Linked DNA regions of Homo sapiens. The protein of the gene in region 1 purifies or fractionates together with the protein of each later gene. This does not show direct contact. Each region holds a gene or a part of one and is shown in the gene's direction. Other genes may lie near its edges. The genes, in order: RAD51C and HRNR.

Region 1 (3,075 bases):
TTGGCTCACTGCAGCCTCCGCCCTACTGGTTTAAGCAATTCTCCTGCCTCAGCCTCCCTAGTAGCTGGGATTATAGGCGTGTGCTACCACGCCTGGCTAATTTTTGTGTTTTTAGTAGAGATGGGGTTTCGCCATGTTGGCCAGACTAGTCTCAAACTCCTGACCTCAAGTGATCCGCCCTTCTCAGCCTTCCAAAATTCTGGGATTACAGGCGTGAGCCACCGAGCCCGGCTTTATCTCATTTTTATAACAACAAAAACAGAAATAGAGATTCTGAAACTGAATTATCCACTTAGTCTTTGCAGTACCCAGGTGTACTTGAAATATCCTAGTTGGGGAAAAAAAAGAGAGAGAGAAATATCATAGTTGGAAAACTTTAGAGTATTTAATTATGAAAATAAATCTGTAAAGTACCTAAGACTTAGGTTATTTCCTTTTACTTCTAACAAAGCTATCGTAAAGTTTGTTAGGATTGACCTTTAGAGAACATTTTTATAATGCAATGTTATTTCTGTGCGTGTGTATGCAAGGGTATAAATAAGTATATATAAAATACTCTTAATATAGCCCGGGCTTTGGCACGTATCCATGAGGTTTATTCTCTTCATTCACAGTGGTTGATAAATTTCTATCTCAAGAACTTTCTTTTTTTTTGAGACGAAGTCTCACTATTTCGCCCAGGCTAGAGTGCAGTGGCACAATCTTGTCTCACTGCAACCTCCGCCTCCCAGGTTCAAGCGATTCTCCTGCCTCAGCCTCCAGAGTAGCTGGGACTAGAGGTGTGTGCCACCATGCCCAGCTAATTTTTATATTTTTGGTAGAGATAGGGGTCACCATGTTGGCCAGGCTGGTCTTGAACTCCTGACCTCATGATCTGCCCACCTCAGCCTCCCAAAGTGCTGGGATTACAGGTGTGAGCCACTGCGCCTGGCCCTAGAATAAAGTAGCTTTCTTATTAGTTACTTAAAAATATTTCTAAGATCAGTCTTCAAATGTTCTTAAAGCATATTTGTATATATATTTTTTATCTTTCAGCCTCAGGGATTTAGAGATACTGTTGTTACTTCTGCATGTTCATTGCAAACAGAAGGTTCCTTGAGCACCCGGAAACGGTCACGAGACCCAGAGGAAGAATTATAACCCAGAAACAAATCTCAAAGTGTACAAATTTATTGATGTTGTGAAATCAATGTGTACAAGTGGACTTGTTACCTTAAAGTATAAATAAACACACTATGGCATGAATGAATCCAGATCATATGAAGTGAATGGGAAAAATACCTAAATATGATTCTGTGAAAGTTTTTCTAAAGCAGTATTCTGCAATTATATTTTACCCTGTTTTCATTTTCAGTAACATTCAGTAGAGATGATTATTATATTTCACAAATGTGGAAAGCTGATCTCATGTGGCCAGTCTGAATTTACCATTCATACTGTTTTCACCCCTTTCTTTCCCAGTTGCCTATAAAATCTTAGGAAGAAACATATCATATTCTTATTGTGTTTTTTTTTTTTTTTTTTTTTTTGGAGATGGATTCTCGCTCTGTAGTCCAGGCTGGAGTGCAATGGCGCAATCTCTGCTCACTGCAACCTCCGCCTCCCAGGTTCAAGCGATTCATCTGCCTCAGCCTCCCGAGTAGCTGGGGTTACAGGCACCTGCCATCGTGCCTGGCTAATTTTTTGTATTTTTGTAGAGACAGAGTTTTACCATGTTGGCCAAGCTGGTCTTGAACTCCTGACCTCAGGTGATCTGCCTGCCCCTGCCTCCCAAAGTGCTGGGATTACAGTCGTGAGCCACTGTGCCCAGCCATGTTCTTTTTAAATGTAAATTTGATAATTCTTTAAAATTACCCGCTTTTATAATTATAAAAGAGAAGCCAGCACCATGAGTCAGCATATTATTCTGTTCAGTTTTATAGGTAAGATACAAATTTTAGGTGACCAAACTGATTTTAGTGACCTCAATCCTAAAATCTAAGCCATTTGTTTAGCTTTTAATGACATTTTATAATGTTAAAGGGAGGACTTTGGAGCTGTTATCTCATCTAGAGATTGTTTGGAACATATGTCTTCCAGAATAGGTTGATAAGCTCACAATCATTTATTGCTACGTTTTTGTTTTTGTTTTGAGACAAGGTCTCACTCCGTCACCCAGGCTGGAGTGCAGTGGCATGATCATAGCTCACTGCAGCCTCGACCTCCCGGGCTCAAGCAATCCTCTCACTTCAGCCTCCTGAGTAGCTGGGACTACAGGGAGGCACTACCATGCCCTGCTAATTTTTGGATTTTTTTGTAGAGACAAGGTCTCACTATGTTGCCCAGGCTGGTCTCAAACTCCTGGTCTCAAGCGATCCTCTTGCCTTGTCTTCCCAAAGTGCTGGGATTACAGATGTGAGCCACCACACCTGGCCTCATTTCTATATTTTGAAACACGGTATGATCCATTCTAGAATTCTAGTTGTTATGTTGACATTTTTCTTTGAATAATCTTAACTTTGCTTAAATAAATTAAAGATTTCAATTCTCGATGGTTTCAAAATCACCTAAAAATATTTTCACACTTGGCTCTTAGTACTTTTCAACTTACTCACAAAATTTACTTTGGTTCCCTGTGGGGGAAAAAATAATTAATTTTGGGACAGAATCTCGCTCTGTCACCCAGACTGCAGTGCAGTGGCACAATCTTGGCTCACCGCAACCTCTGCTTCCAGGGTTTAGGCGATTCTTGTGCCTCAGCCTCCCAAGTAGCTGGGATTACAGGCATGCACCACCGTGCCAAGCTAATAGTTTGTAATTTTAGTAGAGACAGGTTTCTCTATGTTGGCTAGGGTGGTCGCGAACTCCTGGGGCTCAAGTGACCCGCCCACCTCTGCCTCCCAAAGTGCTGGAATTAACAGGTGTGAGACTGCGCGCCCAGCCATATTTATATATTTATTTTTAAACTATTATTTTAGGTTCAGGGGTACGTGTGAAGGTTGGTTACGTAGGTAAACTCATGTCACGGGTTTATTGTACAGATTATTTCATCACCCAGGAGTTAAACTCAGTACCCAATAGTTACCTTTTCTGCTT
Region 2 (3,820 bases), on another chromosome or scaffold:
GAGAGATGACACTCACCAGCACCAAGAGGAACAAGAAGAAACTGAAAAAGAGGAGAACAAACGGCAAGAATCCTCTTTTAGTCATTCAAGTTGGAGTGCAGGAGAGAATGATTCCTATTCCAGAAACGTCAGAGGAAGTCTTAAACCTGGGACTGAATCCATATCCAGAAGACTGAGTTTTCAAAGAGACTTTTCTGGCCAACATAACTCCTACTCAGGTCAGTCTTCCAGCTATGGTGAGCAAAACTCCGACTCCCATCAGTCTTCAGGCCGCGGCCAATGTGGGTCTGGGTCAGGGCAGTCTCCCAACTATGGCCAACACGGCTCTGGCTCCGGACAGTCTTCCAGCAATGACACACATGGGTCTGGCTCAGGCCAGTCTTCTGGCTTTAGTCAACACAAGTCTAGCTCAGGGCAGTCCTCTGGTTACAGTCAGCATGGATCTGGCTCAGGTCACTCCTCTGGCTACGGACAACACGGCTCTAGGTCAGGACAGTCATCTAGGGGTGAACGACACAGATCTAGCTCAGGTTCGTCTTCCAGCTATGGTCAGCATGGGTCTGGTTCCCGTCAGTCTTTGGGCCACGGCCGACAAGGGTCTGGATCTCGCCAGTCTCCTAGCCACGTCCGACATGGGTCCGGTTCGGGGCACTCCTCCAGCCACGGCCAACACGGGTCTGGCTCAAGTTACTCTTACAGCCGTGGCCATTATGAGTCTGGCTCAGGCCAGACTTCTGGCTTTGGGCAACATGAGTCTGGCTCAGGACAGTCCTCTGGCTATAGTAAGCATGGTTCTGGCTCAGGTCACTCCTCTAGCCAGGGACAACATGGATCTACGTCAGGGCAGGCATCAAGCTCTGGCCAACATGGCTCCAGCTCACGTCAGTCTTCCAGCTATGGTCAGCATGAGTCTGCCTCCCGTCACTCTTCAGGCCGCGGCCAACACAGCTCTGGATCTGGCCAGTCTCCAGGCCACGGCCAGCGTGGGTCTGGGTCAGGGCAGTCTCCCAGCTCCGGCCAACATGGGACTGGCTTTGGTCGATCTTCCAGCAGTGGCCCATATGTGTCTGGTTCAGGCTACTCTTCTGGCTTTGGTCACCACGAGTCTAGCTCAGAGCATTCCTCTGGTTACACTCAGCATGGATCTGGCTCAGGTCACTCCTCCGGCCACGGACAACACGGCTCTAGGTCAGGACAGTCATCTAGGGGTGAACGACAAGGATCTAGTGCAGGTTCATCTTCCAGCTATGGTCAGCATGGGTCTGGCTCCCGTCAATCTTTGGGACACAGCCGACATGGGTCTGGATCTGGCCAGTCTCCTAGCCCTAGCCGTGGCCGACATGAGTCTGGTTCCAGGCAGTCTTCCAGCTATGGCCCACATGGGTATGGCTCAGGGAGGTCTTCAAGCCGTGGCCCATATGAGTCTGGCTCCGGTCACTCTTCTGGCTTAGGTCACCAAGAGTCTCGCTCAGGACAGTCCTCTGGCTACGGTCAACACGGATCTAGCTCGGGTCATTCCTCTACCCATGGGCAACATGGTTCTACATCAGGACAGTCATCGAGCTGTGGCCAACATGGAGCTACCTCAGGTCAGTCTTCCAGCCACGGTCAGCATGGCTCTGGCTCAAGTCAGTCTTCTCGCTATGGCCAACAGGGCTCTGGATCTGGCCAGTCTCCTAGTCGCGGCCGACATGGGTCCGATTTTGGGCACTCTTCCAGCTACGGCCAACATGGGTCTGGCTCCGGTTGGTCTTCAAGCAATGGCCCACATGGGTCTGTCTCAGGCCAGTCTTCCGGCTTTGGTCACAAGTCTGGCTCAGGGCAGTCCTCTGGTTACAGTCAGCATGGATCTGGCTCAAGTCACTCCTCCGGCTACAGAAAACACGGCTCTAGGTCAGGACAGTCATCTAGGAGTGAACAACACGGATCTAGCTCAGGTTTGTCTTCCAGCTATGGTCAGCATGGGTCGGGCTCCCATCAATCTTCGGGCCACGGCCGACAAGGGTCTGGATCTGGCCACTCTCCTAGCCGTGTCCGACATGGGTCCAGTTCAGGGCACTCCTCCAGCCACGGCCAACACGGGTCTGGCACAAGTTGTTCTTCCAGCTGTGGCCATTATGAGTCTGGCTCAGGCCAGGCTTCTGGTTTTGGGCAACACGAGTCTGGCTCAGGACAGGGCTATAGTCAGCATGGTTCTGCCTCAGGTCACTTCTCTAGCCAGGGACGACATGGATCTACGTCAGGGCAGTCATCAAGCTCCGGCCAACATGACTCTAGCTCAGGTCAATCTTCCAGCTATGGTCAGCATGAGTCTGCCTCCCATCACGCTTCGGGCCGCGGCCGACATGGCTCTGGATCTGGCCAGTCTCCAGGCCACGGCCAGCGTGGGTCTGGGTCAGGGCAGTCTCCCAGCTATGGCCGACATGGGTCTGGCTCCGGTCGGTCTTCCAGCAGTGGCCGACATGGGTCTGGCTCAGGCCAGTCTTCTGGCTTTGGTCACAAGTCTAGCTCAGGGCAGTCCTCTGGTTACACTCAGCATGGATCTGGCTCAGGTCACTCCTCCAGCTACGAACAACACGGCTCTAGGTCAGGACAGTCATCTAGGAGCGAACAACATGGATCTAGCTCAGGTTCGTCTTCCAGCTATGGTCAGCATGGGTCTGGCTCCCGTCAGTCTTTGGGCCACGGCCAACATGGGTCTGGATCTGGCCAGTCTCCTAGCCCTAGCCGTGGCCGACATGGGTCTGGTTCCGGGCAGTCTTCCAGCTATGGCCCATATAGGTCTGGCTCAGGGTGGTCTTCAAGCCGTGGCCCATATGAGTCTGGCTCCGGTCACTCTTCTGGCTTAGGTCACCGAGAGTCTCGCTCAGGACAGTCCTCTGGCTACGGTCAACATGGATCTAGCTCAGGTCATTCCTCTACCCATGGGCAACACGGTTCTACATCAGGACAGTCATCGAGCTGTGGCCAACATGGAGCTAGCTCAGGTCAGTCTTCCAGCCACGGTCAGCATGGCTCTGGCTCAAGTCAGTCTTCTGGCTATGGCCGACAGGGCTCTGGATCTGGCCAGTCTCCAGGCCACGGCCAGCGTGGGTCTGGGTCAAGGCAGTCTCCCAGCTACGGCCGACATGGGTCTGGCTCCGGTCGGTCTTCCAGCAGTGGCCAACATGGGTCTGGCTTAGGCGAGTCTTCTGGCTTTGGTCACCACGAGTCTAGCTCAGGGCAGTCCTCTAGTTACAGTCAGCATGGGTCTGGCTCAGGTCACTCCTCTGGCTACGGACAACACGGCTCTAGATCAGGACAGTCATCTAGGGGTGAACGACACGGATCTAGCTCAGGTTCGTCTTCCCACTATGGTCAGCATGGGTCTGGCTCCCGTCAGTCTTCGGGCCACGGCCGACAAGGGTCTGGATCTGGCCATTCCCCTAGCCGCGGCCGACATGGGTCCGGTTTGGGGCACTCCTCCAGCCACGGCCAACATGGGTCTGGCTCAGGTCGTTCTTCCAGCCGTGGCCCATATGAGTCTCGCTCGGGTCACTCTTCTGTCTTTGGTCAACATGAGTCTGGCTCAGGACATTCCTCTGCTTACAGTCAGCATGGTAGTGGCTCAGGGCACTTCTGTAGCCAAGGACAGCATGGTTCTACATCAGGACAGTCATCAACCTTTGACCAGGAGGGATCTAGCACAGGCCAGTCTTCCAGCTATGGCCACCGTGGCTCTGGCTCCAGTCAGTCTTCTGGCTATGGCCGACATGGGGCTGGATCTGGCCAGTCTCCTAGTCGCGGCCGACATGGGTCCGGTTCTGGGCACTCTTCCAGC

The links.
Region 2: the proteins of RAD51C (region 1) and HRNR purify together in Homo sapiens (co-immunoprecipitation; one large-scale study listed by IntAct). This does not show direct contact.

Annotation. Positions count from the first base shown.
Region 1 is NC_000017.11:58,733,083-58,736,157, forward strand, and holds the end of RAD51C (DNA repair protein RAD51 homolog 3), read left to right. Parts: intron 1-1,035; coding exon 1,036-1,140; 3' UTR 1,141-2,529; downstream 2,530-3,075. UniProt on the Homo sapiens protein: Essential for the homologous recombination (HR) pathway of DNA repair. Involved in the homologous recombination repair (HRR) pathway of double-stranded DNA breaks arising during DNA replication or induced by DNA-damaging agents.
Region 2 is NC_000001.11:152,217,507-152,221,326, reverse strand, and holds part of HRNR (hornerin), read left to right. Parts: coding exon 1-3,820. UniProt on the Homo sapiens protein: Component of the epidermal cornified cell envelopes.